4 linked regions of the Homo sapiens genome follow. The protein of the gene in region 1 binds, or shares a complex with, the protein of each later gene. Each region holds a gene or a part of one and is shown in the gene's direction. Other genes may lie near its edges.

Region 1 (7,901 bases):
TATTGCTCACTCCTTCGGTCCACGCTGCATTTATGAGCTGCAACACCGCGAAGGTCTGCAGCTTCACTCCTGAAGCTAGCGAGGCCAGGAACCCACCAAAAGGAGGAAACTCCGAACATCAGAATGAACAACTCCAAATGTGCCGCCTTTAAGAACTGTAACACTCACCGAGAGAGTCCGTGGCTTCATTCTTTTAAGTCAGTGAGACCAAGAACCCACCCATGCTGGACACAATTCTAGAAGTCAACAGAATAGTTGAGAATACTTATGTTTTTCTTTATTTTTTCTTTTTGAGATGGTGTCAGTCTGTCACCCAGGCTGGAGTGCAGTGGTGCAATCACAGCTCACCACAGCCTCAACCTCCGAGGCTCAAGTGATCGATCCTCCTGCCTCAGCCCCCCAAGTAGCTGGATTTACAGGCACATACACCCAGCTAATTTTGTGTATTTTTTGTATTGACGGGATTTCACCATGTTGCCCAGGCTGATCTCCAACTCCTGGGCTCAAGTGATCCATCCACCTCACCCTCCCACAGACCTGGGATTACAAGCGTGAGCCACTGCACTTGGCCTGTATTTCTTTCAACTGCCTTTTATCAAAAGATCAGTTTCCCTTTCCTTACTCTCATTTTTCCTCCCCTTTTCTTTCATTTAAAAAAAAATCTTTCCCATCTTTTAGATTTGCCAATTACTTTCACGGACATTATAGTGCTAGCTGTTTTAACAGATAAACTCTCAATTGCGGCGGCCTAAAATAGAAGTTATCCCTCAGTAAACTCCAAAATGATTGGGGCAGGCTTTCATAGGCTTCCAGGGACCCAGGCTGTCTTCATTTTATGACCTCACTGCCTCTAAGCCCTGGGAATCCTCTCCATTCAGCCGGAAAAACAGGAATGGAATGAACATTCAAACAGGGAGATTTTTATGGGCCAGGCCTGCAAGTGGAGCACATGCCTGCGGTCATACCCCATTAGCCAGCACTCAGTAACATGGCCACATGTAATTGCAAAGGAGAATGGGCAATGGAGTCCAACTGGGGCAGCAAGAGGAGAAAAATGGGTTTGGTGAATAGCTAGCTTGTCTCTGCTACTAACTGCAGATTATTTCAACAACAGATATACATGATCTGGTGTACTACATGTAGGTAGCCCTTTCCTTACTTTCTCATGAAATCATTGCAACAACCATTATAATGGGATTAGAAATTGGTATGTCCAATTCAGAAACCTAAGGTCACACAGTTCTGAATGACAAACCAAGATTTAGTCCCTGTTCTGCTGCAAAACCTTCTGCAATATGTTGGATTTCTCCAAATAAAACACAGTGAAGTGAAATTATAGCCTGACAGAATTGTGATTACACTTAAAATATCATATAACTGCCACATCATCAACAGAGTCCATCCTTGGAGATGTTTTCCCAATTGGAGGGATGGACTTGTGCTAATTCACTTAAACTCTTTCCCATTTTAGTGTTTCATTTTTGAGACAGGGTCTCGCTTTGTTGCCCAGGCTGTAGTGTAGTGACACAATCACAGCTAACTGCAGCCTCTACCTTCCGGGCTCAAATGATCCTCCCACCTCAGCCTCCCCAGTAGCTGGGACCGCAGGCACATGCCACCATGTCCAGCTACTTTTTGTATTTTTTGTAGAGAAGGGGTCTTGCCATGTTGCCCAGGCTGGTCTTGAACCCGTGGACTCAAGCTATCTGCCTGCCTCCCAAAGTGCTGAGATAATGAGAGTGAACCACTGTGCCTGGGCTTTTTCTCATTTTAATGTATAGCATTATATATTGATGTATAGCTTTGAAGAGATCATTGCAGTCCCCTATAGAGGAATGAATCAATATTCACCCTCATCACTCATGTCTCAGCACTAAGAAACACAAATAGGCATTTCTATTTCTAAAAGATACTTTAAAAATATGGTTTCTTTCTGCTACTGAAGTTTCCTAAAAATCAAAAAGAAAATAGTTTCATTTTATCTTTACAATCTTTTGAACACTAGAGATATCAATCAGATATATCCATTTACAAATGAATAATAGCTAGGTTACTCTAAGAAATATATGTATGTGTATATTCGTTTAATCCTCAGCATCACCTGATGAGTTAAGTGTTTTTGTTGCCAGTATTTTATTGCCGTGGCTATCAAAGCACATAGAGGTTAACCAACTTGAGTGAGGTAAGAGTTGCGCATTGAAGAAAATACAGGTCAGGGTATTAGTGAAAGTCTCCAGCAAAGTTCCCAGGGTTCATAGGTTCTATTTATTCTGCTCTGTATGCCACAGGTTATTCCTTATTTCTTAAAAGATCTTTTCCTCAGGGCTTTCATAACATCCCGTTCCTTTCTTGCAGCTTCATTATATCTTTATTGTGCAGACACATTGACTTGAGTATGTAAAACCTAACAGTGCCTATTGTTGCACTAAAAAATGCCTTGCTATTAAAGCATGAGGCAAAAGCCTAACTTAGCTGTTTCCTGAAGTAAATCCATATTTATACAGAAAAACCCCTTAACTTCCTCTAAAACAAAAGGCATATACTCTACATAGACATATATTTGAGACATTAAAGAAACATCAATTTCCATTTTAAAAAAACGTTTAACTTAGTATCCTCTGTCAAATTTCTGGTGCCTACGAAAAAACTGTAAAAAAAATAGCTTTTGAAATATTACTCATTTTAAGTGAGTCACGCCCTAAAAGAATTTACTTGGGAGTCAAAGCTAGTTGACCCTAACATCTCAGAAATAAAACTCCAATTTGTTTATCCATTTAACCTACCATGAGTCTGTGATTTGGCAACTTGTGAAAAGCAACAACAAAAAAACCCACTAAAATATAACTGGTCACTGGAAACCCTCTTTCTGGTCTGTACTATCTAAATGCCAGCTGTCATGTCAGGCAAAAAGTAATTTGTAGAGCAGCCTTGTGGTCCACTGTATTATGTAGGAAAGACAATGTACTGGAAGAGCGAGGACTCAATCATTTCGTGTCTACTACTGAGAAACTAAATTCTGTAGAGAACATGAGGCTAAACGGAGGCTCTGGTCAGCTCAATAAAGATACGTTGGAAGAATCAATGGGGAGTTTACACAAGAGTAAAATGAAGAGTTCCAAGCTCTCTCATTGCTAACCGTACACTCTCCATGGCTGTTGCAAGTGGTTTTGCAGGTCATCCAAGCACTAATCTTTTCTTAGCCCGAACACATTTAAAGAGGGAAGGGGCAGAGATCATTCACACTGTGAATGTTTCTCTCTGAACTTCCTGAAGTCAACTGGGCGGAGGCCCTACCGGTTCAGGCACCTGCAATTTCCGCCTTTCTCCTTCCCCTTCTTCCGGGCTCCCGTCCCGGCTCATCACCCGGCCTGTGGCCCACTCCCACCGCCAGCTGGAACCCTGGGGACTACGACGTCCCTCAAACCTTGCTTCTAGGAGATAAAAAGGTAATGATCGTCATGTGCAGTATGAGGTCTTCACGTGAAAGCTTTATTTGGGTAGGAAAACCTAGCCTACGAGAAACGGGTCCGTGCGGTCACGCCTGACTGCCTGTCTCCGGGTCAAGGCTGCCAGGACCAGCTCCAGCCCTCCGCCCGAGAAGGCTGTCCTTTCCCCTCGGAACTCTGGCTTCCCTAAAGCGGCCGCGCCTCCTTCCAGGCCTCACCTCCTGCCGGCTCCGCCCGGCCCGGCCCACCTCGCCCCCACCTCGGCGCCCACCCATTGTCCCCTCGCGCAGTCACCGAGCGCAGATCCCGCGCTCTCGATTGGAACGCCTCCCCATCACTCAGCCACACTCAGGGGCTGGACGCCTCACTCCCGTTTCCGAGCCATAAAAGGTCTAGGACCGCTTCCCCCGAGCCAGCAGGTAAAGCCGCGGCGGCGGGAGGGAGGCCGGGAGGGGCCGCGCGCCCCGGTCGGCCCAGCCGGGGAAGGGGAGCGGCGGGCGGGGCGGGGGGCAGCGCACCACACACAACCCTCCCTTGCCGTGCGACCGCGCCCTGCCCCCGCCCCGGGGCCCCCGCCCCGCAAGTCCTGATCACAATGCCGGAGCCGCCGAGCCACCCTTGTCATCCTGCCCGGGGACGGCCCTGGGGCAGTTACTACCGCGAAGCACGGAGGGTGGGGCGGGCCGGGCCTCGGGGAGGGGTGGGGGGATGTGAAAGGTCCCGGATGTTGCTGAACGGGAGCCCCTTCCAGAGGGAGTGACTGGGGCAAGCGCAGACGGGCTGAGCGAAAGCTAAGGTGGGGGTAGGGAGAGAACGCCTTCCCGCCGGCTGAGAGGAAGAGTGGGCCGGCAGAGGCTGCAGGGGAGAGGGAGAGAGAGGGCGTTGGGGACCCAAAGGGAAGGCGAGGAGTGGGGGATTTGCGTTGGGGAGGAAAAGGAAAAAAGCAGCCTCCTGCCCTAGGTGCACTCGGGACAAGCGTAGAGGAGCTGGAAGCCGAGCGGGGTGGGAGGAGTGGCGGCTGCGGGCGAGGACGCGCGCGCCTCCGCTCGCCCTCCAGCGCGGGCGGGCAGGACGAGCGCCGGGGAGCGGCGGTTACGCGGGGCCCCGATCGCTGTGGGCACCAATCAACGGTTGCCATAGCAGCGTTTGACGTCATCGTGCGTGTGGTGCCCCTGCTGCCGGGGCTGGTGATTGGAGGAAACCCCGTGTCTGCGGAGCGGCTGTAGCCTGTGAGCAGCGAGATCCAGGGACAGAGTCTCAGCCTCGCCGCTGCTGCCGCCGCCGCCGCCCAGAGACTGCTGAGCCCGTCCGTCCGCCGCCACCACCCACTCCGGACACAGGTGAGGAACCCGGCCGCCGCCGCGCCTCGCTTCCTGTCCCAGGCCAGCCTTCCGAACGCGTGGGAGCCGTCCTCGCTCCGTCCCCTCATCCCCACTCGCCCCGCGGTGGCGGCGCCGGGCTGAGGCGGAGTCTCCTCAGCGGACACGGGCGGCGGCTCCTCTTCCGCTGGGCTCGGGAGGGCGGCTAGCGGCCGCCTCCGGCTCCTTGCTTCCGCATCGACGCCCCGGCGCCGATCGGTGCTCGCTCCCCCGTCCTGCCCCCGGGGGTGGGTAGGGCGCCCACACGCGAGATCCCTGGGGATCTCCCTGTCGCCGGCTCCCGAAGGTGGACGAGGCATGGCCGGGGCGCCGCCGGCCGCGATCCATCCCCACCCTTGTCTCTGCGGGCTTCCACCCCCTCCCTCGCCGCCCTTCTCGCTTCCGCCCGAGATAATGACTCGGCGGCGGCGGCGGCGGGCATCGCAGTGGCGCAGGTGAGGCCGCCCCCTCCCCTCTCCCTCGGCCGCCCCCTCCTTTCCCTCCCCCTCGCGCAGCCTCCGCGCTGGGCGCTGCGGCGGCGGGACCCGGCCCTCCCCCACCCCGGGAGGCGGTGGCGCGGCGGGGAGGGGCCGGGGGCCTCGGGGACCCAAGCGCGAGGGAAAGGCCTGGCCGAGAGCGGGCCGGAGCCCAGGCCTGGCGCGGCGGCGCCCGCCAGGTAGACCGGGGCGAGGCTGCGCGCCGGCGGGAGGGGAGTCCACTGCGGGGTGAGGTTTTGGGGTGGGGCTCGCCTGGGACCTAGAGCTGAATTTCCTGGGCTCCGCGGTGGGAGGAAGGACTTGAATTTTCCTGGTGGGGGTGGGGGATGGGTCTGACTTTTTTTGCTCCTTGTGAACGGGCGGGGGAGGTGTGGACGGGGGCTGCAAGTCCAGGTCGGGGTAGAGAACAGGGTGGTGAGCCCGCAGTCGGCTCCCGTGCTTGATGGACTAGAACTGGAGGGTCCCTGCGCTCGGTTTGGGGACGCATATCCTGCTTTGGGGGCGGGTGAGCCTGAGCATAGCCGCTGGTGGCCCGCTCGGCTGGGTGTGGCTCTCGTCCCCTCCCCCACCTGCAGCTGTCGGTCCCTTAGAGACGCTGTACACGGTCACCGGCGCTGATCGGTGGCGGGGAAGGCGCTGGGTGGGAGAGCGGGGTGTGTCCGCGGCGGGGCTGGTAGTGGTTCCGCTTCTGCGGGCTGCTGTGGCGTCTCTGCCCCGGGGTCGGGCGGCTTCGCTCCCCATCTCTCCCCCCCCCCCACGGCTTGGGCGGGGGCGCGGGCTGCTCCTCCCTCTGGCTCCGGTCGGGGGGAGGAATTAACACTCTGCAGTAGGTTGGGCTCCCTGACACAGATCCGCCATGACAAAGGAGGAGAGTCGGGGACTTGAGCCGTGGCTCCGACTTGGGCGGAGCCTGGAGGGGGGTGGTTGCGATACGCGGACCGGAGAATTTGCACTTTAAAGTCCGGGTCTGCCCGTTTTCGTTTCACAGTAACCGACGTCTCAAGTCAGGTAAGGGTTAAATGGGTGCGGTGAGTCCTGCCCGCAGTGTAGAGGCGAGGCCTTGGAGCACTCGTTACTGTGTGAGAAACCTTATCCACTTCCTCTTGTACCGAAGTGATTGGGGAGAGAATCCTTTGTACTGGCTTAAATCATTTTTTGTTAGAAGCAGAAATAACCAGAGAGCGTTTCTGAGATCCTAAGGGAAAAATCAGTAATTTAGAGACCTGACGAAAATAATGCCGTCATAAAGGTTAAATAGTTTACGTATTGAGCCAGTACCTTGCATCCAAAGTGGTTAATTATTTGTTTAAAATGTGGCGACCTGTTCTCTCATTTGGTTAAAAAAATATTGTGGGATTTCCCTGGGAAGGTAAAAGATGATTAATATTCGGGAGCCAGCTGCCAAGGTGGACTCTTCTGTTCACCTTCTAACTTAAAAGTGCACTTCATTCAGGGTGTGTATTTTCCTCTGAAGTCATTTATTCTGTGGTGTCACTGTGTGGATTAGTATCTTTGTGCTGTTCGGCAACTTGCAAAAGGGTATCTTTCCAGAAAAATGTAGCTGAGGTAAATCGAAAAGGTCCAGGAAACTAAAATGCGAGGGAAAGAGAATTAGATGGGTAGTCATGGTAAAGGACAGCTTGAGTGGTAACATCCAATTACATTATGATGGCTAGAAGCAAAATGCAGCACTTCTGCATTTCAACTGGAGCGATGACATTGGAAACACTTATAAATTAAGTACTTCCAATGTGATATATTCTAGTACTCACAGTAAGAGTTGAAGTGTCATGACTTGCGGATATTTTTAAAGCATGTGGACATATAACAAGATAAAGAGTTGAGACATTAGGGTCAGATATTGATCCTTTGTGGTGGATTTATACTCAAAATATCTGAAAACAAACAGTTGGTCATTCCCCCCCAAATTGTTATGCTATTATTGGCTGGCAGTTGTTGCAGAGATCTAGTAGGTTTGGGGTAGGGGTAACACTAAAGCTAAAATGTAATCACTCTTGACAAGAGTATTATGAAAGTAAAAAGACGTGAGTTACATTAAACTGATATGAATTATGATTCTGGAAATATGATAGAAATCCAGATGTTCTCTGTAAACAATGCTTTTACTAAAGGAAGAAAAGCTGCTTAATTTTGGATCACTTAGTGGTATTGGAAATGAGTTGAGATTTTGATCAGGTAAGATTAGGGGTAGTTTTTGAGGCAGCTTTTGGAAGTAATTTTGACATGTGAAATTTGGGTCTTCTGAACAAATTTTAAGTTTTGCTACACTGATGTGTTAATGGCTGTAAGTTTACCTCTGATGCTGAGTATGCTAAATTTTTTTCCCTTTTTTGACTATCCTTTTGTGAGGCTGCATTTTAATTCCTCATGTGAACAGTCTTTCACAGGCAGTTAGGTTTCAGGTTTAAAAAACTCATTTACCACAGGTATAATTTTGAGTCTGTTTATTTTGATGGGAAAAATTTTAAATACTCCTTTTTTCCCCCCTGCAGAACATCCAGTCATGGATAAAAATGAGCTGGTTCAGAAGGCCAAACTGGCCGAGCAGGCTGAGCGATATGATGACATGGCAGCCTGCA
Region 2 (7,200 bases), on another chromosome or scaffold:
TCCCAAACCTTCCACGGAGAAGGCTGGCTACCAACCTGGATCACTCACCCAAGACTGCTCGAAGAGTTGGTTTGAACCATTGTGTTTTGGGGTCTATTTATTACAACAGTTTAGCTTGCTTTGTGAATAGATTTAGTGGCAGAGCCTCCAAATTCTATAGATACATTGATCTCAGTCCTAACCGCATCTGGAACACCATTAAATAAAGGAATTGCAAACCCAGAGAAGGTAATGAATTTGTCTAAGGTCATACAAGATGGCTAGGATCAGGACCCAACTCTCCAGTTTTCTTTCTTCTCTGCTATTCTGCCTTCTGTGATCCTACATAAGTGGGCATGATTGTATAACATATGCGGCCATGAGATTTCTCTTTCAGCAAGAGAAAGGGACAGGAAGAAAGAGAGGGAATGCATTTTCTTGGCCTGAATTAGTGTGAGCCATTAGTTACCTACATTGACTAAATTATCTGGAATGAACATTCAACTCTACATCACATATAGTTAAAATGACAGATCTGCTTAAGATTGTTTCTAGCATACGTTATTTCAATTTAGGCAAATGTGACCATTCAGTGTGAGGGGACCATACTGTCATTAGGTCCCTGTCAGTTCTCAATTATACTGTTATCTTAGAGGGGGAAAAATGTGAAATTTGAATGTAGACGAGTGTTGATTTGACTGCTACAGTTTATTTTACGTATAGAAATAAAATAATGTGTAGCAAAAGCATTATTACAAAGATGATAATGAAATAACTAGTATTTATAATAGTATAATAGTATAGTATTTATAATAGTATGATAGTTTAATGACTATTTGTCAGATGTTGTGTAAGAAACTTTATACACACACACACACACACCTCATTTAATTCCTGTATCAATCAGGATACAGGACGCTGTGGTAACAACTCCTCAAATCTCGGTGGCTTGCACAACAAATGCTTATTTCTTTTTTTTTTTTGACACCAAGTCTTGCTCTGTAACAGGCTGGAGTGCAATGGTGCAATCTCGGCTCACTGCAGCCTCTGCCTCCTGGGTTCAAGCGATTCTCCTGCCTCAGTCTCTCGAGTAGCTGGGAACACAGGCACGCGCCACCACATCTGGCTAATTTTTGTGATTTTAGTAGAGATGGGATTTCACCATGTTGCTCAGGCTGGCCTTGAACTCCTGACCTCAAGCGATCCACCCACCTCAGCCTCCCAAAGTGCTGGGATTACAGGCATGAGCCACTGCGCCCAGCCCCAAATGTTTATTTCTTGCTCATGTGACATGTACTTCCTCGAGTTTTTCCTTCCTGAGATCTAAGCTGAAGGAACAGCTCTCTGGAGCCACGCCATTCTGGTGGCGGAAAGGAAGAGTAAAAGTGGTAGAACCTTGCAATGCTCTTGAAGCGCCTATTTGGAATGTCTACATCATGTAAATGGTAATGGACAAGTATGTATAATCCCCACACCAAAAAAAGGGGACACTATTGGGGACAATAACCACATTTCAATGCTGCAAGACGGATATTGACTGCACCCCCTTCCCACTTTCAGAAAGAAGAAGAGTAATTTTGCTGAACTCCTTCTAGAGACTGGAAATGTCCCTTCCAGTTGGGGTGATTAGGGAAGGCTTTGGTAAAATTTGAGCTAGAGTTTGAAGGTTAGGTAGACTACTGGTGGGTGAAGAAAGAACAAGGACCTTTGTAGGCAAAGGAAAACCTCAGAATTACAGAGGTGGAAAAAGAGTTCTAGTCAAGCCACTTCAGCTGGCTACAGAGTAGGTGGGAAAGAAAATGGGAGGACAAGGGCTCAGATGATGGGGGGTTGGGGCATTGGGGGGACACTTGAAAGCTAAACTAAGGGGTTGAACTTAATTTAGGAGGCAGTTAGAAGCTTTTACATATTTTTGAGCAAGAGAGTGACATAATTAAAATGATCTGGGCCAGGTGTGGTGGCTCACACCTGTAATCCCAGCACTTTGGGAGGCTGAGGAGCTTGGGTCACCTGAGGTCAGGAGATCGAGACCAGCCTGGCCAACATGGTGAAATCCCGTCCTACTAAAAATACAAAAATTAGCCGGGAGTGGTGGCATATGCCTGTAATCCCAGTAGCTGGGAGGCTGAGACAGGAAAATCGCTTGAACCCGGGAAACAGGTTGCAGTGAGCCGAGATCGTGCCACTGCACTCCAGCCTGGGCAACAGAGCGAGACTCCATCTCAAAAAAACAAAACAAACACACACAAAAAACCAAAAATAAATAAATAAAATGATCACTTCTGAATACTGATCTAACTAGGGGTTGCAGGGTGGGCTGATATAGGGAGAAACTGGAGAGCAAGGAGATCACTAAGGTCCCTACATGTCCAGAACCAAGATAGAGGTCTTGAACTAGGATGGTGGCAGTTAGAACAACAACAACAAAAAGTCAATTCCAGGCTGAGTGCAGTGGCTCATGCCTGTAATCCCAACGCTTTGGGAGGCTGAGGTGGGAGTTAGAAAGCAGCCTGGGCAACACTGCAAGACCTCCTCTCTAAAAAAAAAAAAAAAAAAAAGTTAGCCAGGTGTGGTGGTGCCCACCTGTAGTCCCAGCAACTCAGAAGGCTGAGGTGGGAAGATTGCTTGAGCCCCAGGAGTTCAAGCTTGCCGTGAGCTACGATTGTGCCACTGCACTCCAGCCTGAGCAAGACCTTGTCTCCAAAAAAAGGTCAATTCCACTGACTTTTCTAAGGTGTACACCATCAAGGGGCAGCTCCATCTCCAGGCCATTGGCTCATGAGACATTCTGTAGTCAGAAGGCTAGGGCAGATTGCTTTGAGCAAGCCCCCATGGTGGTTCTCACTCCTACTTCTTTGGGTATATGCCCCTCTGTTTAAAAATAAAGTTAATATGCATTTAAAAAAAAAAAGGAGAAAAAGGTCAGTTCCAGAAACTGTGTGAATAAAGCATTTTACTTGCTTTTTCTATTAATCTATAACATATGTTGATTTTTTAAAAAGAATATAAGAGCTATGCAAATTGGAGCTTCAAGACAACTTCCCATCTCCCTAGGAGGAGATGGCTGCCCTAAACCCCCCTACATAGAAATCATCCCACTGCTTGGGCTTAAACTTGATGTTGGGGAAATGAAAAATCCAAGCTAAGGCCGAAGCCTGGGGCCTGGGCGACCAGCAGAATGAGGACCACTGGTCAGTTTCAGGCTGAGGTGCGTCTTCCAGGGGACAATCTCTAGCTGGCCCTTAAACATTCAGACTTCAAGCTCTATTTACAGCATAAAGGTGTTTCAAAAGACGTGATACAAATAACTGCAAATGCTCTGCGATGTGTTAAGCACTGTTTGAAATTCGTCTAATTTAAGATTTTTTTTTCTGACGTAACGGTTAGATTCACGTTTCTTTTTTTTTAAGTACAGTTCTACTGTATTGTAACTGAGTTAGCTTGCTTTAAGCCGATTTGTTAAGGAAAGGATTCACCTTGGTCAGTAACAAAAAAGGTGGGAAAAAAGCAAGGAGAAAGGAAGCAGCCTGGGGGAAAGAGACCTTAGCCAGGGGGGCGGTTTCGGGACTACGAAGGGTCGGGGCGGACGGACTCGAGGGCCGGCCACGTGGAAGGCCGCTCAGGACTTCTGTAGGAGAGGACACCGCCCCAGGCTGACTGAAAGTAAAGGGCAGCGGACCCAGCGGCGGAGCCACTGGCCTTGCCCCGACCCCGCATGGCCCGAAGGAGGACACCCACCCCCGCAACGACACAAAGACTCCAACTACAGGAGGTGGAGAAAGCGCGTGCGCCACGGAACGCGCGTGCGCGCTGCGGTCAGCGCCGCGGCCTGAGGCGTAGCGGGAGGGGGACCGCGAAAGGGCAGCGCCGAGAGGAACGAGCCGGGAGACGCCGGACGGCCGAGCGGCAGGGCGCTCGCGCGCGCCCACTAGTGGCCGGAGGAGAAGGCTCCCGCGGAGGCCGCGCTGCCCGCCCCCTCCCCTGGGGAGGCTCGCGTTCCCGCTGCTCGCGCCTGCGCCGCCCGCCGGCCTCAGGAACGCGCCCTCTTCGCCGGCGCGCGCCCTCGCAGTCACCGCCACCCACCAGCTCCGGCACCAACAGCAGCGCCGCTGCCACCGCCCACCTTCTGCCGCCGCCACCACAGCCACCTTCTCCTCCTCCGCTGTCCTCTCCCGTCCTCGCCTCTGTCGACTATCAGGTAAGCGCCGCGGCTCCGAAATCTGCCTCGCCGTCCGCCTCTGTGCACCCCTGCGCCGCCGCCCCTCGCCCTCCCTCTCCGCAGACTGGGGCTTCGTGCGCCGGGCATCGGTCGGGGCCACCGCAGGGCCCCTCCCTGCCTCCCCTGCTCGGGGGCTGGGGCCAGGGCGGCCTGGAAAGGGACCTGAGCAAGGGATGCACGCACGCGTGAGTGCGCGCGTGTGTGTGTGCTGGAGGGTCTTCACCACCAGATTCGCGCAGACCCCAGGTGGAGGCTGTGCCGGCAGGGTGGGGCGCGGCGGCGGTGACTTGGGGGAGGGGGCTGCCCTTCACTCTCGACTGCAGCCTTTTGCCGCAATGGGCGTGTGTGTGTGTGTGTGTGTGTGTGTGTGTGTGTGTGTGTGTGGAGGGGTCCGATAACGACCCCCGAAACCGAATCTGAAATCCGCTGTCCCTGCCGCTGTTCGCCATCAGCTCTAAGAAAGACGTGGATCGGGTTCTAGAAAAGATGACTCCCTGCACGCCCCTCCCTGCACCTCCCGAGCAGTGATTCCGACAGGGCCTTCACTGCCCCTGATTTTAGGCGGGGGCCGGCCCCCTCCCCTTTTCCTCCTTCAGAAACCCGTAGGGGACATTTGGGGGCTGGGAGAAATCGAGGAGATGGGGAGGGGTCCACGCGCTGTCACTTTAGTTGCCCTTCCCCCTGCGCACGCCTGGCACAGAGACGCGAGCAGCGCCGTGCCTGAGAACAGTGCGCGGATCCCACTGTGCACGCTCGCAAAGGCAGGGTTCACCTGGCCTGGCGATGTGGACGGACTCGGCGGCCGCTGGTCCCCGTTCGCGGGCACGCACAGCCGCAGCCACGCACGGATGGGCGCGGGGCTGCAGGTGCATCTCGGGGCGGATTTCTTTCTCAGCGCTCGGAGCGCAGGGCGCCCGGCGTGTGCGCTCCCTGCCGGAGGCGCGGGGCTGGCGCGCAGGGCTCGCCCCTCACTGCGGCAGTGGGTGTGGACCCTGGTGGGCGAGGAAGGGGGAGGATAGGCTGTGCCTCCTCCCACTCCCGCCCCCAGCCCCCCTTTTTTTCCCCCTCGGAACGCGAGGTGCCATCTTTTTTCGGCGTGTCACGTCTTTACGGTGCCATGCCAAACCGGGTGGCCGGGCTTCATAGGACAGGGCGGGGCCTGGCATTAAAGGGAGGGGGACAATCAGCGCTGAAATCTTGGCGTTTTGCTGCTGCGGGCGTGAGCACTGGGGGCGTTCGCCCAGCACCTTCTTCGGGGGCTCTTTGCTTTGTCTGTAGAGGTTACGTGATCTGCGCTCCCAGCCCTGGTTTCTGGCTTTTATTCTGAGGGTGTTCAGTCAACCTCCCCCCTACGCCCATGCGCCTCTCTTTCCTTTTTCGCTCCTCATTTCCGAGCCCATTGTTGGATCTCGAGGCTTGCTGGGTTCGATGAACTCGAGTCAACCCCCCGACCCCCGGCACGCATGGAACGGGCGTGACCGCGCGCAGCCTCGTCTCGGAGTCTGCCGGCGCCGGGAAGCTTCTGAAGGGATGGGATTCGAGTCTCCGTGCGCGCTGCGGGCGGCGGCAGAGGGATCTCGCCCCTCCCTACACCCCAAGTGTCCTGAGGGCCACGCCACACCAGGTTGCCCAGCGAGGGACGCTGGCTACCCATCCGGGGATGGGTGGGGAGCCCTGGCGGGGCCTCTCCGGCTTTACGCCCTGTTGCTTCGCCTGGCCGGAGAATGTGAGGAAGGGGCATAAGGTTACTGGTGCTTCGGCCACACCCATCTTTCTGAGCCCACTGGACTGGGCGCAGAGGGGGGATTGCCATGGAAACCACAGGTGTCCGGAGAGGGGATCTTGGGGCTGGCCTCACCCCTTCCCTGCGGAGATTGGGGACCCTGGGGTAGGGGGAGCCGCGCCCAGTCGGCCTCCTGGAGGACACGGGAGGAAGCCCCGAACCCCCGCGCCTGAGGCTGTTTCTGATTGGCCCCTGGAGGCCGCAGACACGCAGATAGGCGGCCCTGGGTGTATTTTTATTAATATTATGTCCGTACTGATTAATATTATTTATCTTAAATAAATTTCACCCGTGTCCAAGTTCACCGCGCCCCCAAAACCGAGTCTGGGGCGGCAGGGGGAACTCCTGGCCAACGAATCCATGCCTCGCCCTCCTGTGATGAACCTGGTACGCACGGTTTTCTGGTTAATTCTATCGCTGAAAACTGGTGCGGGGGGCGCACTTCTGAGACGGAAGAGCATCTAGGAGCTGAATCCTCCACGCGGGTCGCCCAGGTTGATCTGAATTTCTGGGGAATGGCTTGGCTGCCCGCCCGGGACCAGGCCGACCCTCCTTGACGGTGGCGTAGAGGGCTGGAGCCTGGGTACTGCGAGGCTCCTCGCATGGCTGGGCCCGCCGCGAGGGGTTGCAGAGCGGCTCAGGGATCGATTCAAGCATCGTCTCTCCTCCCTCGCCCCCAGACAGAGCTGGGCGCGGGGTTCCCCTTCCAGATGGAGCGAGGGTCTCGGGGTGGCCCCGGAAAAGGGGAGCCCGCGGCCACGGCTACGTATTGCCATCTCGCGAGCAGAGATGTCACCTCCTGCCTTTGGAGGAAAGGGAGCCCGGTGGGGATGAGCGCATTTAGCCCAATGCTGGGAACAAAGCGCACTCCGCGCTTCTGCGATTTCGCTCCATTTTGAAATGTGTTGGCGCTTTGGTGGGGCCGCTGCGGTGGGCAAGGCCGGGGGCGCTGTTAATGGAGGAACCTCAGGGGGACGGTCCTTCGTAGGAAACTCTATCCTGGCTCTGCGCGCGCTTTAAGGAAATGGCTTCCCTCCAGGACCTCGAGGGATGCAGCTTTTGCGCGGATGACGGTGGGGTGCTGAACCAGCCGGTGCGCCTCTGGAAATGTCTGGGCACGGATCCTGGGGCCATCGACGACTCCTCCCCATTCCCAGCAGGCGGGAGCTCTTACATTCCGAGCGAGTGACCCCTCTCACCCTCTGGCGCTCACACACCT
Region 3 (8,224 bases), on another chromosome or scaffold:
AAGATATTCCTTATTTTCTTCTCAGATTTTTTTTTTTTTTTGAGACGGAGTCTTGCTCTGTCATCCAGGCTGGACTGCAGTGGGGCGATCTCGACTCATTGCAAACTCCGCCTCCCGGGTTCAAGCAACTCTCCTGCCTCAGCCTGCCGAGTAGCTGAGATTACAGGCGCATGCGCCACCACGCCCGGCTAATTTTTTTGTATTTTTGGTAGAGACGGGGTTTCACCATGTGGGCCAGGATGGTCTCGATCTCTTGCCCTCATGCCTCGGCCTCCCAAAGTGCTGGGATTACAGGCCTCGGCCTCCCAAAGTGCTGGGATTACAGGCGTGAGCCACTGGCGCCCAGCCTTCTCAGAGTTTTATAATTTTGCTTTTTGCACTTTCTTCAATCCAATGGGATTGTTTTGCGTAGGGTGGGAGTTACAAGTATATTTTTTCTATGTGCATTTATCTATTGCACATTATTTCATTTATTGAACAGTATAGCCTTTACCTATTTATCTGCAATGCTTACGGTATCAGGTTTCTATATATTTGGCTGTCTACTGATCAATTGGTTTGTAGGTTCTTGTGCTAATATCCATTGTTTTAATTACTTTAGCTACGTAATCAGTTTTCACATCTGGTAAATCAAGTTCCCCTACCTTCTTCTTTTACAGGAGAATTAGCCTTTTGCTCTTTCATATACCTTTAAGAATGAGTTTGTCAAATTCCATGACAATCCCTGTTGGGAATTTCGTTAAAGTCACATTGCATTTGGATGTGATCAATTTGAGGAGCTATTACAACTTGAATCAACTGGAAAGAGACTTTTGCAAAAAGTCTTCTCTTCTCTCTTAGAAGATAAACTTGGGCATATCCTATAAGCTCCCTGCAGAAATCCCGAGAAAGAAGTGCGAGGAATAGTCCCATATGTCTTGGAGAACCTCTGATAATCTCTTCTAACTGTACCATCTTTGCAAAGGCAGGGATGGAAACAGAGAGGGAGGAAGAGGGCGGGGGACTCAAAGTATTAGCTAAAGGTGAGTAAAGAGTGGGCATCTAGTGTTCTTCTCAGTCACTATTTTCTCTGGTGTGTTTCCTGGAGATACATTTTTTGGAGGAGAGGAATTGAAAGGAGGCATTGGAAAGACAGAGGGTGAGGGAAAGACAGAGGGTGAATATGTTCTGGAGGAGAGAGTACCTTAACTGCTGATGGCTGAAACTGCTGTTCCTTCTACCTGTTCGGCTCTGAAGGAATCAGAGCCGAAAACAAAAAAAAAACTTTAGAGAGAAGGTAGCATTTGAGCTGAGGGCGCGCAGGGTGGATAAGAGTTCCAGCGCGAGCGTGTATCTGGGAGCTGGGGTGGGGCTGTGGTGGGCGGCATTAGAGAAAAAAGGCGACAGGCATTCTGAATAGCAGGAGACAGAGACAGAAGTGATGTGTTTGTAGGAGGCAAGAGCAGTTCATTTTGAGTGAGAGATACAGCTAGAAAGATAAGTAGCGGTCCGATTGTGCAAGGCCATGGATACCAGGTTAAGGACTTTGGAATTTATCCTGGGACGCCAGTGTGAGTTCTTGAACAGAAAAGTAAGTAGCTGGGTCCGAAGTTCGCGTCAGAAGGATCACTGTGGCTGCAGCAAGGCAGAGAACCAGGTGGCCGCGTCCTGGCCAGCAGGGCAGGCAAAGGCGCGGAGCGTTGCACTTGCACCTGCAGGGGGCACACTGAAGGGCCAAACGCCCACCCCCGCCCCCGTCCTCGCCGCCCTACTCCGATGCGCCGCGCTCGGAACTCGGCTAGCCCGCCTGGACGCGCCCCTCTCGGTCTTCGCCTATTCCGCCCGGACGCGCCTCGTGCGTCACGTCCGCCGTGGCGTGAGGCTCCTTAGAGCTGAGGAGGGAAGCGAAAAGAAGCCTCTGCGCCTGCGCCAGGGCGCACCCGTCGGCGGTAAAAGCTGAGGGGCTGGCGCGGGGGATTGGTGGGCGACACTTTTACGTCTACACGTGCCTACCCGTCTGCACGTTTCTGAGTCCGCACGGTTGTCTTCTCTTGCTGAATGGACATAGGTGTTTTGTTTTGTCCCAAGAGATACAGGCAAGCAGTACAGGGGTGATGGAGTGCTCCTTGACCTTAGCGGGGCTGACCCTGGCACTCCCTGTAGGTCTCCCCGCTGCGAAGCACTGAGTCTCTTCACTGCAGTTTCTCTCCAGTTACCCGCCCTGTCTACGGCCCAAACGGCCATGCTAGTGAAAACCTGCCCTGGCCGCTAAGCAAGCCTAGCCCAGGCTGTAACCCATGTTTCTAGGGCTTGTTTTCCTCTGCAGTCAAATCAGAGATTCGGAGTTGAAGGGGATCTTAGAGGTCAACATGCCCAACCTCTTAGCCCGAGTGAGTGAATGTACGCTTTTTACCTGCACACCCCGAAAATCGCCCGTTTTCTGGAAACAACGTTGATTATGTAGTCCTGGAACTTTCCTGCATGCACATTTTATTCCTTCGACAATATTTATTGCTACCTACTGTGTGCAGGCATTGTAGGCCCCGGGGATACGATTAAAACCAATGAAGAACGAAACGCACAAGATTGTTGATCTCGGCCGGGCGCGGTGGCTCACGCCTGTAGTCCCAGCACTTTGGGAGGCGGAGGTGGGTGGATTGCTTGAGGTCAGGAGTTCGAGACCAGCCTGGCCAACCTAGCGAAACCCCACCTCTACTAAAAATACAAAAATTGGCCGGGCTTGGTGGCGTGCGCCTGTAGTCCCAGCTACTCGGGAAGCTGAGGCAGGAAAATCACTTGAACCTGGGAAGTGGAGGTTGTAGTGAGCCAAGATTCCGCCTGCATTCTAGCCTGGGCAACAAAATGAGACTCTGTCTCAGAAAAAGAAAAAAAAAAAAAAAAGATTGTTTCTCTCTCTCTAGGAGTTTACATTTTATTTGGGGGCAGGAGGGAAACCAACAACCAAAAATAGAGGACTGATTTGATTTAGTGCTAGCAGGAAATAAAAAGAACATAAGGTAGAAATACACAGGTGAGAATTACTTGGAGTGATCGGAGAAGGCCTCTTGGAGGTGGTGATGTTTATAACCAGCCAAGGGAACAGTTAGGGGTTCTAGGCTGAGAGAAGAACAATGTTCTTTAGGCAGGTTGTTGTTTTCTAGGAATAGACAGAAGGCTACTGTGACTGGAGTGTGGTGAGGCGAGGTTGTGAATGGTGAGAAAACATTGAGAATGTGAGCAGGAGCCAGATGCACGCCTTTGTGGGGTACGGTAAGAAGTTTGAAATGTATTCTAAGAGCAATGGGAAGCCAAGCAATAGTTTGGGGTACAGGCTTGATGTTGGTTCATTTGGAACCATACAAACCAATCTCTTCCCCCATATCACAACCCTTTAAATATTTGAAGAGGGCTGACCGGGCGCGGTGGCTCAGGCTTGTAATCACAGCATTTTGGGAGGCCGAGGCGGGTGGATGACGAGGTCAGGAGTTCGAGACCAGCCTGGCCAATACAGTGAAACCCCATCTCTAATAAAAATACAAAAATTACCTGGGTGTGGTGGCAGGCGCCTATAATTCCAGCTTTCATTCCACACACTTTGAAAGTGGGGAGTTTTTCAAATGTAAACCAAGTATGTATATTTTTATTTTTTCAATAAAACAATAAAGATGGGTCTCGCCAGCCTGGTCTCAAACTCCTGAACTCAAATGGTCCGCCCACCTCGGCCTCCCAAAGTGCTGGGATTACAGGCGTGAGCCACTGCGCCCGGCCGGTCTGTGTGTATGTGTGTGTGTGTGTGTGTGTGTGTGTATATTTTTTTTTGAATTGAAACGGAGTTTTGGTTTTGTTGCCCAGGCTGGAGTGCAGTGGCATGATCCCGGCTCACTGCAACCTCTGCCTCCTGGGTTCAAGCGATTCTCCTGCCTCAGCCTCCCAAGTAGCTGGGATTACAGGCGCCCACCACCATGCTCGGCTAATTTTTGTATTTCTTATGGAGACAGGTTTTCACAGTGTTGGCCAGGCTAGTCTGGAACTCCTGACCTCAGGTGATCCATCCGCCTCGGCCTCCTAAAGTGCTGGGATTACAGGCATGAGCCACCTCGCCTGGCCGGCCTGTGTATTTTTAAAGGAAATAACCTAAGAGTTGTTTTTCCAGATTTTCAAAGAGGTCCTGTAAAGATTAAGAACCACTGAACCTTTCTCGTTTATGTGATCCTGGTTACTGTTCTCAGGAATAGCAGGACACAATGTCAGCTTTAACCCAGGCTAGTTCCTCTAAACTGCCTTCTTATCGGTGAAATGAAAATAATAGGGTTGCTATGGGGATTAAATGAGATGATACTCAAAAAAATGATAATTAATGATAAATCATAAGGTGTCTGCCACAAAGTGCCCCTATTATAAACAAACAGTGGCCTGGAGGGACAGTTTATAAATACTGCTCCTTTAGCATTCCACTAACATTGACTGAGTGCCTGTTCTACACTGTGTAGAGGCCCTGGTGAAAAAGATCTGCCTTCCAGTTTATTATCTAGTCGAAAGAACCGCAAAAGATAACAAAACACAATAGACTGAACGCCCTGAGAGGGGCATAAGTGCAGTGCTCTAGGAGCTGTAAAAGAGGTCTCGATATCCACTGGAGGAAAGTGCTTACTGGAGTTCATTTCTGGAGTGGGTTTAAAAGATGAACAGAGGGAATCTAAAACATTCACACAAAATCAATACTACACGTACACATTTTATTATTTTGTGGAAAGACCACTTAGAAACACCGCAATCACTTCTACTACTCAGCAGATACTGAGCAGTAGGTTTCGTGACAGAGCACCTGTCTTTTGTCCAGTCTGTTTACTATACATTGCGTGCTCTGGGCAGTCCTTATCTTCGTGTTCAGGAACAAAGTACACACACCCCTTTCCGAAACGAAGGGCCCAGGGACTCCGAGAAGGGTGGGAGCCCTCACGGCCAGGCCACACAATGGGGAGCCTCTTTACCCTAGTCATCACCCACCCTTGCAGGCCCCACTTTGCCAGGGTGCGACTTCTCGGGCCCCTTCGCCCCTCCCCTGCAGCCCCCAGGAGCGCAGCCACAGCCCGGCCGGGCGCCCTCCCTGTCTCTCTCTCTCTTTCTCTCTCGAGCTTTCCTCCTCCTTCACCGGGAGCCGGAAAACCCGGAGCGAACCAGCCCAGCACGGCAGCGCATGCTCAGTAGCGAGCAGGTTCAGTTCGCTAGTAGGAAGCTCCAGCGCTACACCGGCGGCGGCGGTGGCGGCGGCGGCCGCGGCGGCACCTCAGGGCAGCCAGATTCCCCAACAACGACCTCCGGTCCTTCCCCTTCCCCGCGAGACCTCCGCCCCAGCTCCGCCCCGCCCGGGGCTCTTGCGTTTCGGAGTCCCAACTACGCGGAGCGGGCGCCGCGGCCGGAGCGTCCCTCCACACGTCCTCCCCCAGCCGCCAGCTCCGCCGCGGGGCCAGACCGGGCCCGGGAGTGCAGCCCCGGCGGGCGGGCGGCGGCCGCGGCAGAGGGCAGCCCGGGGCGGCGCCGGCGGGCCGGGGAGGGGCGGGGGGCCTGGCCCCGGGGCGGTGGTGCGGGATGCCGCCGCCTCCGGGCCGCGTCCGTTCTCCACGGCTGGTACCTGTGTCGGGTGGGTGGCCAGGCGCGGGCCTCGCCCCCCAGCCCCCTCGCCAGGGCTAGCCCGGCTGCGCGGCGCCCGGAGGGGGCCGGGCCGTCCGGTGGGGCCGCGGCCCTGTTCCGCGCTGCGAGCTCGCCCTCTCGCGGCTCCCTGGCCCGGCCGCCGCCGCCCCTCTCCCCGCCCAGAGGCGCCCCGGGGGCACCATGCAGGCGCAGCAGCTGCCCTACGAGTTTTTCAGCGAAGAGAACGCGCCCAAGTGGCGGGGACTACTGGTGCCTGCGCTGAAAAAGGTGAGGAGCACGCGGGACCCCGCTTCCCGGCCGCAGCCCCCCAGCGCGGGCGCTGGGGAAGGGCTGGGGAGGCGGGGCGCGCGCAGGGCCGTCTTTCTTCCCGGTCTCGCCGCGTCTCCAAAAGGACGGCGCACACGGAGAGGCCCCCCTCATACGGCTGGCTCTCGGTGTTGACATCCACCGGGTGTGTGGGAATGCCGCAGGGAGCCGGGGGGAGTTTATCCGGATAATCCAACCCCTGAGAGGTGAATGCTTTGCCCTTTGATTCCAGGACAACAACAGTTGGAGGAGCCTCAGTTTTCAGCGGAGGTCAAAGCAGGCCACTTTTCCGTCTTCTTGGTCTTAGCCCGGAGCTGCTGTCAGCCTACCGTTTTAGGTGTCCAGTACGCTGGTTTTAGTGGCTTGAGAATGCCCTGGCCGTAAGGCTTGCTCAAAGGAATTGCGAGCTCGCCTGCCAGTAGGAACGTGGCCTGCTCTGCTCGCCGTCAGTATTCACTCCTCATTCTCCTGGTTTCCCCCGCTCCTCCGATTAACAGGGGCTGGTGCACATGCTACCAATTTCAGGGGGGTTTTGTTTTGTTTTTGCAGCGTTCGAGATTCTTGGTGCTGTCATTTGGCTTGTTAAGAATTTTTAGCCTTTGTATGTTTAAGTTTGCTACATTGTTACCTGAAGTTACATACCCCCGATCTGTGCTTTTAAATGTTTTAGTATAATTAGGAAGTGTTCTTACGTTTTTAAAGCTTCTAAAGCAGCAGTGTGACAACCAGACTATTTTTGTTTTCTTTTCTTCATTTACCTTTTCTGTAAAGATTGCTTTACTCTTCTAATAGTGTTTCTAAATCCCAGTTTCTTGCTGCTCAAAGAATGTTTCATGCTAACTGCTTCTACTAAGAATGGAGATTATGTTTTACCTTTTATGCTAAACATTAAAAGGTGTCTGATATTTCTCAAAGGCCAGTAACTTTTACTTTCCCTTTTGCCCTGTTCTCCTCCGGTCCCTCTTGCTGTCTTACAGTGGAAACTATTTGGTTTTTCAGGAGAATTTGCTCATATATTTCTGGCTTAAATTACGGACATTTTCCCCTTCAAGTGTCTGACTAGTCACAAACATCTATGTAATTTTTTTTAAAAAACAGAAGAAAAGATGCCATATATCTTACATACTTTACTCCTTAGAAATCCCTTCAGGCTCTCACTCCTTACTTTTGCTTTACTTGCAAGTTTGACTTCTTAGCTTGTAATGGAAGGGGTGTAGGAGGTCTCTGTGATGCTAGAAGCTGGTGTCCGGATAGAGTAAGGGGAGACACGGAAATTGTTTAAAAACGTGTAAAGGAACTCATAAAGCATTGCCAAATAGGGGCCATTTTGCTTAGAGGCAAAAGCAGCTCCTTTCCCAGGGGAATCACCAAGGTATCAGCTGAGGATCCTTTGAAGCAGTGGAAAGAATATTGTAGGAGTTGACAGACGTTGTTTAATTCTGCCACACTGGTGGCCCTTGCTGAAATCTGTCCACAAAAGCATTTTGTTTGGCTGGCATAGTGTTGTTTTATTTTTAAATGTAATTAGTTGCTAATATTTGAAAATGGGAGATATTACATAAAACCTGAATTTTCGGCTTTTCTTGAAGAATAGGAAGGTCTTGTCATTTAGGGCCTGTATTCAAGCGAGGCACTAAACTGCTGGAGTTGAGTAAATGGCTCCCTTCTTTAGACAGGTCATGTATCTCCACCTTACCACAGCCCCCACTTGTCCTTTTTGCATATTTACATAAAACAGCTTTTGACTTTAAGTTAGAGATACTTTTGCAGTAGAAGTGATAGGAGGAGGTGGAAGTGTACATAATCTAGCTGATATGTAAGGTTCTTCCAATTCTTATTTAAATAGCCACTAACAATGATTCTAAACAAGATTGAAAATACAGTATGTTTCATATCTGGATATGCTGTTGGTAGCTCAAAACCTACGTTTTTACTTGCCTGCTGGACATTTCATGTGGATATCTCCATATCTTGATTTCTTCCTTTGATTTGTTATTGAATTATTCGTAGATACATCCGACTTGTGTTCTCTTACTCTTACCTGAGGCTCTTTGGATATGCTAGTCCCTTCATCCTTCTTTGCCTGGTCCAACACTACTCATCCTTCTAGACTCACTCAACCTGAACTGTCAAATCATCAGGGCTGAGTTGGATATTACTCCTTTGTTTTCTTTTTGCACCCTGTCCTAGCTCTGTGAATTTTAAGTTCCTATTTACTTGCCTATAACTAGATTGGATGCTCCTTGAGAACAGGGATGATATCTTACCCACATTTTATTCCCCATAC
Region 4 (7,292 bases), on another chromosome or scaffold:
GGCTGCAGACTTAGGGGCTTAGAGAGCCAGGGGACCTGCCCAGGGCACACAGTCAGCGAGAGCCGGGAACAGGAGGCAGCCTTGGGTTTTCCCTGCCCATGGCGGTGTGTGTGTGTGGGTTGTGGGTGTGCACAAGTGGGTGGGTGCGGGTGTATGTGGTGTGCACCTGCATGGGTGTGCATGCATGTGAATGTGTGTGCATGTGTGCATGCGTGGGTATGTACATTTGTGGATGTGTGGACATTTGTGGATATGTGGACATTTGTGTGTGGATATGTGTGCTTGTGTGGGTGTGTGCACACGGTGTGTACATTTTGGTGTGTGAATATATGTGTGTGTGGGTGTGTACATGCGTGGGTGTGTCCATGTGGGTGTGGGTGTGCATGTGGGTGTGGGTGTGCATGCGTGGGTGTGTACATTTGTGTGCATGTGTGCATTTGTGGGTATGTACGTTTGTGTGTGGATGTGTGCCTGTGTGTGTGCATTTGTGGGTGTGAGTATGCGTGTGTGTGCATGTGTGGGTGTGCATGCATGGGCATGTACATTCATGTGTGGATATGTGCACATGTGTGGGTGTGCATGTGTGGGTATGTATATTCTAGTGTGGATATGTGTACACGTGGGTATGTCTGTGTGGGTGTGCATGCATGAGAGTGCACACGTTGCTATATGGCTCTGAGCCTGCTGAGTCAGGGCCAACCCTCTGATCACCCTCCTGTAGCTCCAAGAAGGAGGGCAGTTATTCACCCTCCACGCCGTTCCTTCCTGGGTTCGGGGGCAGCTCCCCGGAGGCTCAGGTACCCACCTTTCCTGCAGGTGTCCAGGCTCCTCTGCCTACCAGTGGGGTGGCGACCATCACCAAGGTGTGAGGGGCGGGGGGACCTGCCTGGGGGCTGATCAGGCTGCTCCCGGGAAGCAGGGACTGGAGCCCGGGCTTGGGCAGCTGGGCTGCGGCGTGCTGATCTGTCTGTCATCGCAGGCGCCGGCTCTGCAGCAGTACCGCACTAGCGCCGGCTCCCCGGCCAACCAGTCTCCCACCTCGCCAGTCTCCAATCAAGGCTTCTCCCCAGGGAGCTCCCCGCAAGTAAGGGGCGCCGCCTCCCCCTTGGCCTGTGGGCTCCACGCTTGTCTTGTTCATGCCCCGTGTGTTCCCTGCCCACTGTCTGTCCTCATGCATCGCTCCTCATGCATGTCCTCATGCATCCCATCCCGTCCACGCCATCGGACCTGAGCTGTGCACCTACCAGGCTGCACCAGGGCAGGAACCCCACAGGGTCCTTCCCAGGAGCCGCCAGAGCCTGCCTCTGCTGAACACTAGGTGGGGGTGTGCGTTAGTGACATTAGCGATGGCTGTGGCCCTGCCTGGATGTCCTCATTGAGTGGCCCAGGGACAATGCCCTCCACACCCAGTGTGTCACCCAGAGCATGAGCTGGAGCTTTAGGGACCCCCCCGACTTGGGGGTGCAGCTGAGGTGGCTGGCCCGCCCGCAGGGAAGGCGCTGACTCTGCAGCCCTGCTTTCCCCTTCACCCCATAGGCAGCTGTGTTTCTCCAGAACCACTGGCCCAGGAGGCTTCTCTGAGCCGCTCTGCAGTGTCTCAGGGCCCTTGTCCCCATTCCACAGACGGGAGACTGAGGTCAGCCTCAAACCTCACCCATCAGCCCTGGGTTTTCCTGTTGCACCCAGCACCGTAGGACCCTGGCTTGCTCACGCCCCAGCCACTCCAAGGTTCAGGTTCCTCGGAATGCCCCTTCGTTCTGCCTGGCCAGTGGAAGCGGCCAGCCTGGCTCCCCACTCAGCCTCCTCCTGTTGTACTTTGACATCAGGTGTGGCCAGTAGACCCCACATTCCATCTAGAACATTTGTCCGGGAGAAGGGGTGCCCACAAGGCCAACATCCAGCCGCCAACTTTTTTTACCCTGGCAGCAGAGCCTCCCCAGAACCCCGCTATCCTGGGACCATCTCATCCCTGAAATTTCACCAAGCTGAGAAACCCCTAGCAGCCACTGCTGTGCCCGGGGCCCTGAAGCCATCCCTGTCCCCTGTAGAGGGGATGCTCTCGTCCTACTTCCCAGCTAGATAAAAGAGTCGCTCCTCCAGGGCTGAGGTCGGGCTCCCTTGTCCCAGGGCAAACCGTGAGCGCCACAGACAAGGACAGTGAAGCCCCTCTGCCCCCATCTCCAGCTCTCACACGTGTATAGGGACATCTGCCCCATCAGCCAAGGGCCGTCTGGGACCACTGCCTGTAGCCCCGTGTTCTGGAGGCAAGTTGGTGGGCAGCAGTGGTCTCGGGGAGGCATGGGGGTCAGCCTGGTGTCTGCGCATGCTTGGTCTGCCCGCACTGGCTCTCTGAGCTCTCGGGCTCTGGCAGCGTGTCTGGTCTCGTCGTGTGGTACTGTTGGGGATGGGGCTGGAGGGGCTGGAGAAGCGGCAGGTGAGGCCTGTCCCAGGTGGGCAGCCCAGGTGGGGCTGGTTCCTGAGTGAGGTCCCTCTTGCATGTGAGACAGGACGGGACAGGAATTAGGAGTCGAGCCAGTTTCTCTCAGGAGAGAGTCACTGGAATGGTTGGTGAATTTTTGGGCCCCAAGCCAAAGCGGGTTAGTCTGCTGGGCAGCGAGCAGGTGGCGGTGTTGTCAAGCCCATGTCTGTGTGTCTGGTGTCCGTCGTGCGCTGATGCAGGAGGCAGGCGGCTCATGGAGGTATAGGGACATCAGTACGGGGCTCTCAGGGGCAGATGGTTCTAGGTGGAGCCGAGACCTGCCTTCCCTCTGCACTGGGTCTCCGAGGACTCACCCATCGGTCCCACAGGCCCAGACCACCCCACACCTGCTGTGTCCTGCCTTGAGTAGCCACTGTGTGCACCCTAGCCAGGCCCTGGGCCACAGGCAGCTACCATTTGGTCCAGTTTGTGGCTCTCTCCCAACTTCAAGCTCACCTTTCTGGCAAGCCCTCATGGCAGGCTCACAGGGAAACCTCAGCCTGTGTTCCCCTGTGTATGCCAGGCCTTTTTGAGCCCAAGCCCTCAGGGACAGGATCAGGCGCTGTCCTGGAAGCCTGGTCCCACCCCACACCCCGAGCCCCAGGACAGACCCAGCTTCAGACCAGCTCTACGACAGCCAGGACATTACCTATTGCCTGCCTGCCTCCCTCGCCTCGGGCAAACCAAGCCGCAAGCTTGCGGTCCTTGTTTCCAAAACCTGAAGCCGTTGATTTTTAGGGCCAAGATAGCATTTTTGCCACACGTGCTGGCCTTCCCTTCCTTGGGTCACCTTTTTACCTCTTCTCTGGCGTTTGAGTGGGACGTCCAACCTCACAAGCCTCCTCGCCCCAGGGTGAGCGTGTCTGTCTCTGTTGTCTGCCCACTGACCACCAGGAGCAACTGGTGGGTTTGTGGCCGGCCCCTCTCTGGGATTGAGGCCAGAGACTCAGGCGTTGGGATCTTCCTGGAACAAAGGGGATCTCTCTAGAACAAAGCTCAGATGGGGAGCTCCAAGGGAGAGGGCCAGGGCTTTGGGTCTGTGGAGACATTCACCTGGACGCCTTATAGGGCACATGCCTTACGCTATAGCTCTGAGAATGGCTGTGGGGCAGTGGCTTCCTGGGGACACTAGCCAGAGCTCCCAGCCCCCTGGATGCTGCCAGGCCTCCAGCAGCCACAAGGTCACACTGCAGCTGGGGTTCCCGAGGCCTCGTCCACGGCCACCCCCTCCTCGCCTCCACACCCCAGCCAGACCTCATCCCACCATCTCTTGGGGAGGGGCTCCGAGTGTCTCCTTTCTAGCGTCTCCACCACCCATAAGGTCCCCTAGCCCCCTGCTCCTGTCAAGGGACAGCCCCTGTCACCCTGCCTCTGAGAGCCCTGCTGGCCTCAGATAGCAGGAGTAGGGCCCCGGGTCCTGCAGGCTGGCAGCCCTGGGCAGGGGCTCTCCCTGTGCCTGTCCTGTGCTCTCTCAGCTGGTGGCTGGCTCTGTGCGCCCATCCTGTCCATGTACGTGGCCTGCGTCGTGTCCTTTGTCTCCTGTCAGGAGTCACCAAGTGCACTTTCTGTCCTGAATGTAACGTCTGGGCACTTCCCGCCTTGGCCCTGGTGACAGGTTCTCCTCTGGGGCCTGTTGGGTGGGGGTTCCTCATCCCTGTGGCCCCCAACTTCCCTGTGATGGAGATAGAGGCTGCCTTACCCAGGCTTGAGGAGAGGAGATGGGGATGGGGCCTTGGGAAGGGGCTTTCGGGTTGCAGAGGCCTCCCAGGAGCAGGTGGCAGAAAAAAAGTCATCCAGGATTGGGGGGCACTTCTGGAACCCCAAAATAAGCATCATCATCAGCCTCCTGCCGTCTGGGAGGTTCCAGGGGCCTCTTGTCTTCCAGCCGGGCTTGGGAGGTGCCGACTTCCCACCTGGCCTCAGGCCGTGACCACAGCAGGCCTCTCTTCTGTCTGCAGCACACTTCCACCCTGGGCAGCGTGTTTGGGGACGCGTACTATGAGCAGCAGATGGCGGCCAGGCAGGCCAATGCTCTGTCCCACCAGGTGAGCGGGCGCCCAGGCTGCCAGCCGGCCGGTGCCCAGGACAGATGCTTGCTGGGACCCTCGCTGGGACCCGGGCCTTGCGAGTCAGAGCTGCACGTGCTCGGGGGGCCCGTGCCTGCCCCTCAGCTTTGCCCCTCGGCCCCCGCCCCGTCCCATCTGCGGGCTATGGAGGCTGAGTCCCCGGCAGGGGTGGCCTAGCGCTGCCTCCCCTGGCATCTTTGCCCACCTACAGAGCGGAGGCCGAGGGCAGAGGGTGAGGGGGGGCAGGCAGCAAACGCCGGGCCAGACAGGGATGGGACCGTGGCTGTGGACGCGGCGCCTCGGCATGGACCGTGCACGCGGGTTTGCCGGGAGGTCGTGCTGGCTTTGCGTGGAGGCCAGGATCGGGGGCATCCAGGGGGCTTGGTGGCAGCCTGGAGCTGCTCACTCATTTGCTCATCCATTCATCCATTCATCCAGCCAGTCTCTAGGGTGGCGGGGAGGCCCCAGGTGGCGGGTGGAGTGGGGTTCGTGCTTGGCAGCCTGGGTGCCGAGCATCCTGCAGGGACAGAGTCCCCAGCTGCGGGCAGGACAGCCACAGCAGCCAAGGGCTTGGGGTGGCCAGCTGGGCAGGCCCGCGGTGGCCCTCACAGCCTGGTGTGCCTCCCTTCCCAGCTGGAGCAGTTCAACATGATGGAGAACGCCATCAGCTCCAGCAGCCTGTACAGCCCGGGCTCCACACTCAACTACTCGCAGGCGGCCATGATGGGCCTCACGGGCAGCCACGGGAGCCTGCCGGACTCGCAGCAACTGGGATACGCCAGCCACAGTGGCATCCCCAACATCATCCTCACAGGTGAGGCCAGGCCGGGGGCGCGTGTGCGGCGCCCCAAGGGGCCTCAGCCCGTGCGGAGACAGCCAGAGACTGCTGTCCCGCAGCAGGAGGGTTGACAGGGCCGGGGTTGTGACCCAAGCTTGATGGGGGCCTGAGGAGGCCACACCCCCTCTCCCCTGAATTTGACTCACTCCTGGGCTTCGGGCCAGGCCAGGCCAGGGAGATGCCTCTGGACCAGACGTCCCGTGCATAGGATAGAGACGGTCACTCTCCCCTCTCGGCGGCCTCCTGTCTGGCCAAGCAGCCCGGGTAAAGGTGAAGCAGCCGGGTACACGGTGCCCACTGCCCAGGCCACTGACCTGTCAGCTGAATGTGCACCAGGGTCAGGGACGGCTGTGGGGTGGGCCCTGTCTGGTGAGCCCAGCCTGGGCAGCCAGCTAACAGGTCAGGGCCGTGATGCACCGTGACAACCACGCCCAAGCAGTCTGAGCACGGCGCCTGGGCTCCTGGGGACAAGCCAGCCCCGTCCTGCATGGCACATATCAGGAAGACCCGGCTCCATCTAGCACAGAACCCAGACCCTGTCTCCCTGCTGAAGAAGATGATTCCCTTATGAGTCAGGGCTGCTGGATTGAGGGTGATGCGCCCCCTGGCAGTCCTCACTGGCCTCTTCCAGGCTGGAAGTGTCCGTATTTAGTGCTCCCCCACTGTGGCCTGGGCTCTGAGTGCAGAATCCAGCACCTCCTTCCCACCCCTCGGGTGTAGGCAGCAGTTGACGAGAAATTCAAGGGTGGACGCGCCAGCCTCAGACTCAGGAGAAGAATCAGAATCTGACCCCCGCAATGGCCTCAAGAGCCCAGAAAGACAGGGCGTTTCAGCCCCATTTCTCAGACCTGGAACCTGAGTGTAGGTGGAAGCCTAGGTTTGAACCCGGGTCTTTGTGGGGGAACTGAGGATTCCCTCCAGCCCTAGCAGCAGCTGGGTCCCCACAGTCACTCCAGCCTGCTTCTCAGTGACTCGTGCCGAGCAGCCCTCATGGCTGAGGGAGCCGGGGAGGTCCCTGCCCTCGCCAGGTCATGCTGACGTGCATCAGTGACACAGCCCTTGGCCCGAGGCTTCTCCTTGGTGCTCCTGACATCTGGAGCTGACATCTAGGGCCAGACTGGTCTCTGGGGTCCAGGCACTGTAGGGTGCTGAGCAGCATCTCATGTGCTGGCCCCTCCCCCAGTCATGACAGCTGGAATGTCCCCAGACATTGCCAGCATACCCAGGGGACAGAGTCGCCCGGCGGGCATGCCTGGTCCGACACATGGATGCGAGCGATGGAGCCAGGGCTAAGCAGTGCCTTTTGTCCCCACCCCATCCCCCAGTGACAGGAGAGTCCCCCCCCAGCCTCTCTAAAGAACTGACCAGCTCTCTGGCCGGGGTCGGCGACGTCAGCTTCGACTCCGACAGCCAGTTTCCCCTGGACGAACTCAAGATCGACCCCCTGACCCTCGACGGACTGCACATGCTCAACGACCCCGACATGGTTCTGGCCGACCCAGCCACCGAGGACACCTTCCGGATGGACCGCCTGTGAGCGGGCACGCCGGCACCCTGCCGCTCAGCCGTCCCGACGGCGCCTCCCCAGCCCGGGGACGGCCGTGCTCCGTCCCTCGCCAACGGCCGAGCTTGTGATTCTGAGCTTGCAATGCCGCCAAGCGCCCCCCGCCAGCCCGCCCCCGGTTGTCCACCTCCCGCGAAGCCCAATCGCGAGGCCGCGAGCCGGGCCGTCCACCCACCCGCCCGCCCAGGGCTGGGCTGGGATCGGAGGCCGTGAGCCTCCCGCCCCTGCAGACCCTCCCTGCACTGGCTCCCTCGCCCCCAGCCCCGGGGCCTGAGCCGTCCCCTGTAAGATGCGGGAAGTGTCAGCTCCCGGCGTGGCGGGCAGGCTCAGGGGAGGGGCGCGCAT

The links.
Region 2: the proteins of YWHAZ (region 1) and MAPT are in contact, whole or in part, in a crystal structure (PDB 8QDV), measured with the Homo sapiens proteins. Residues at the interface, in NP_001129171.1 of Homo sapiens: Glu14, Leu43, Ser45, Val46, Lys49, Arg56, Arg60, Lys120, Arg127, Tyr128, Glu131, Gly169, Leu172, Asn173, Val176, Glu180, Ile217, Leu220, Asn224; in NP_058519.3 of Homo sapiens: Ser637, Cys639, Gly640, Ser641, Leu642, Asn644, Ile645, His646, His647.
Region 3: the proteins of YWHAZ (region 1) and SOS1 are in contact, whole or in part, in a crystal structure (PDB 6F08), measured with the Homo sapiens proteins. Residues at the interface, in NP_001129171.1 of Homo sapiens: Glu14, Asn38, Asn42, Ser45, Val46, Lys49, Arg56, Arg60, Phe117, Lys120, Arg127, Tyr128, Ile166, Gly169, Leu172, Asn173, Val176, Glu180, Asp213, Leu216, Ile217, Leu220, Asp223, Asn224, Leu227, Trp228; in NP_005624.2 of Homo sapiens: Arg1157, Arg1158, Pro1159, Glu1160, Ser1161, Ala1162, Pro1163, Ala1164, Glu1165, Ser1166.
Region 4: the proteins of YWHAZ (region 1) and CRTC1 are in contact, whole or in part, in a crystal structure (PDB 7D8P), measured with the Homo sapiens proteins. Residues at the interface, in NP_001129171.1 of Homo sapiens: Asn42, Val46, Lys49, Arg56, Arg60, Lys120, Arg127, Tyr128, Glu131, Gly169, Leu172, Asn173, Val176, Tyr179, Glu180, Leu216, Ile217, Leu220, Asn224, Leu227, Trp228; in NP_056136.2 of Homo sapiens: Arg147, Arg148, Thr149, Asn150, Ser151, Asp152, Ser153, Ala154, Leu155, His156.

The regions. Positions count from the first base shown.
Region 1 is NC_000008.11:100,948,814-100,956,714, reverse strand, and holds the start of YWHAZ (14-3-3 protein zeta/delta), read left to right. Parts: upstream 1-4,694; 5' UTR 4,695-4,786; exon of another isoform or gene 4,787-5,259; intron 5,260-5,402; exon of another isoform or gene 5,403-5,529; intron 5,530-6,143; exon of another isoform or gene 6,144-6,309; intron 6,310-7,814; 5' UTR 7,815-7,825; coding exon 7,826-7,901.
Region 2 is NC_000017.11:45,890,510-45,897,709, forward strand, and holds the start of MAPT (microtubule-associated protein tau), read left to right. Parts: upstream 1-4,044; 5' UTR 4,045-4,177; intron 4,178-4,970; exon of another isoform or gene 4,971-5,004; intron 5,005-5,273; exon of another isoform or gene 5,274-7,200. UniProt on the Homo sapiens protein: Promotes microtubule assembly and stability, and might be involved in the establishment and maintenance of neuronal polarity.
Region 3 is NC_000002.12:39,118,010-39,126,233, reverse strand, and holds the start of SOS1 (son of sevenless homolog 1), read left to right. Parts: upstream 1-5,182; 5' UTR 5,183-5,811; coding exon 5,812-5,898; exon of another isoform or gene 5,899-6,143; intron 6,144-8,224.
Region 4 is NC_000019.10:18,770,463-18,777,754, forward strand, and holds part of CRTC1 (CREB-regulated transcription coactivator 1), read left to right. Parts: intron 1-979; coding exon 980-1,084; intron 1,085-4,437; coding exon 4,438-4,524; intron 4,525-5,178; coding exon 5,179-5,359; intron 5,360-6,708; coding exon 6,709-6,920; 3' UTR 6,921-7,292. UniProt on the Homo sapiens protein: Transcriptional coactivator for CREB1 which activates transcription through both consensus and variant cAMP response element (CRE) sites.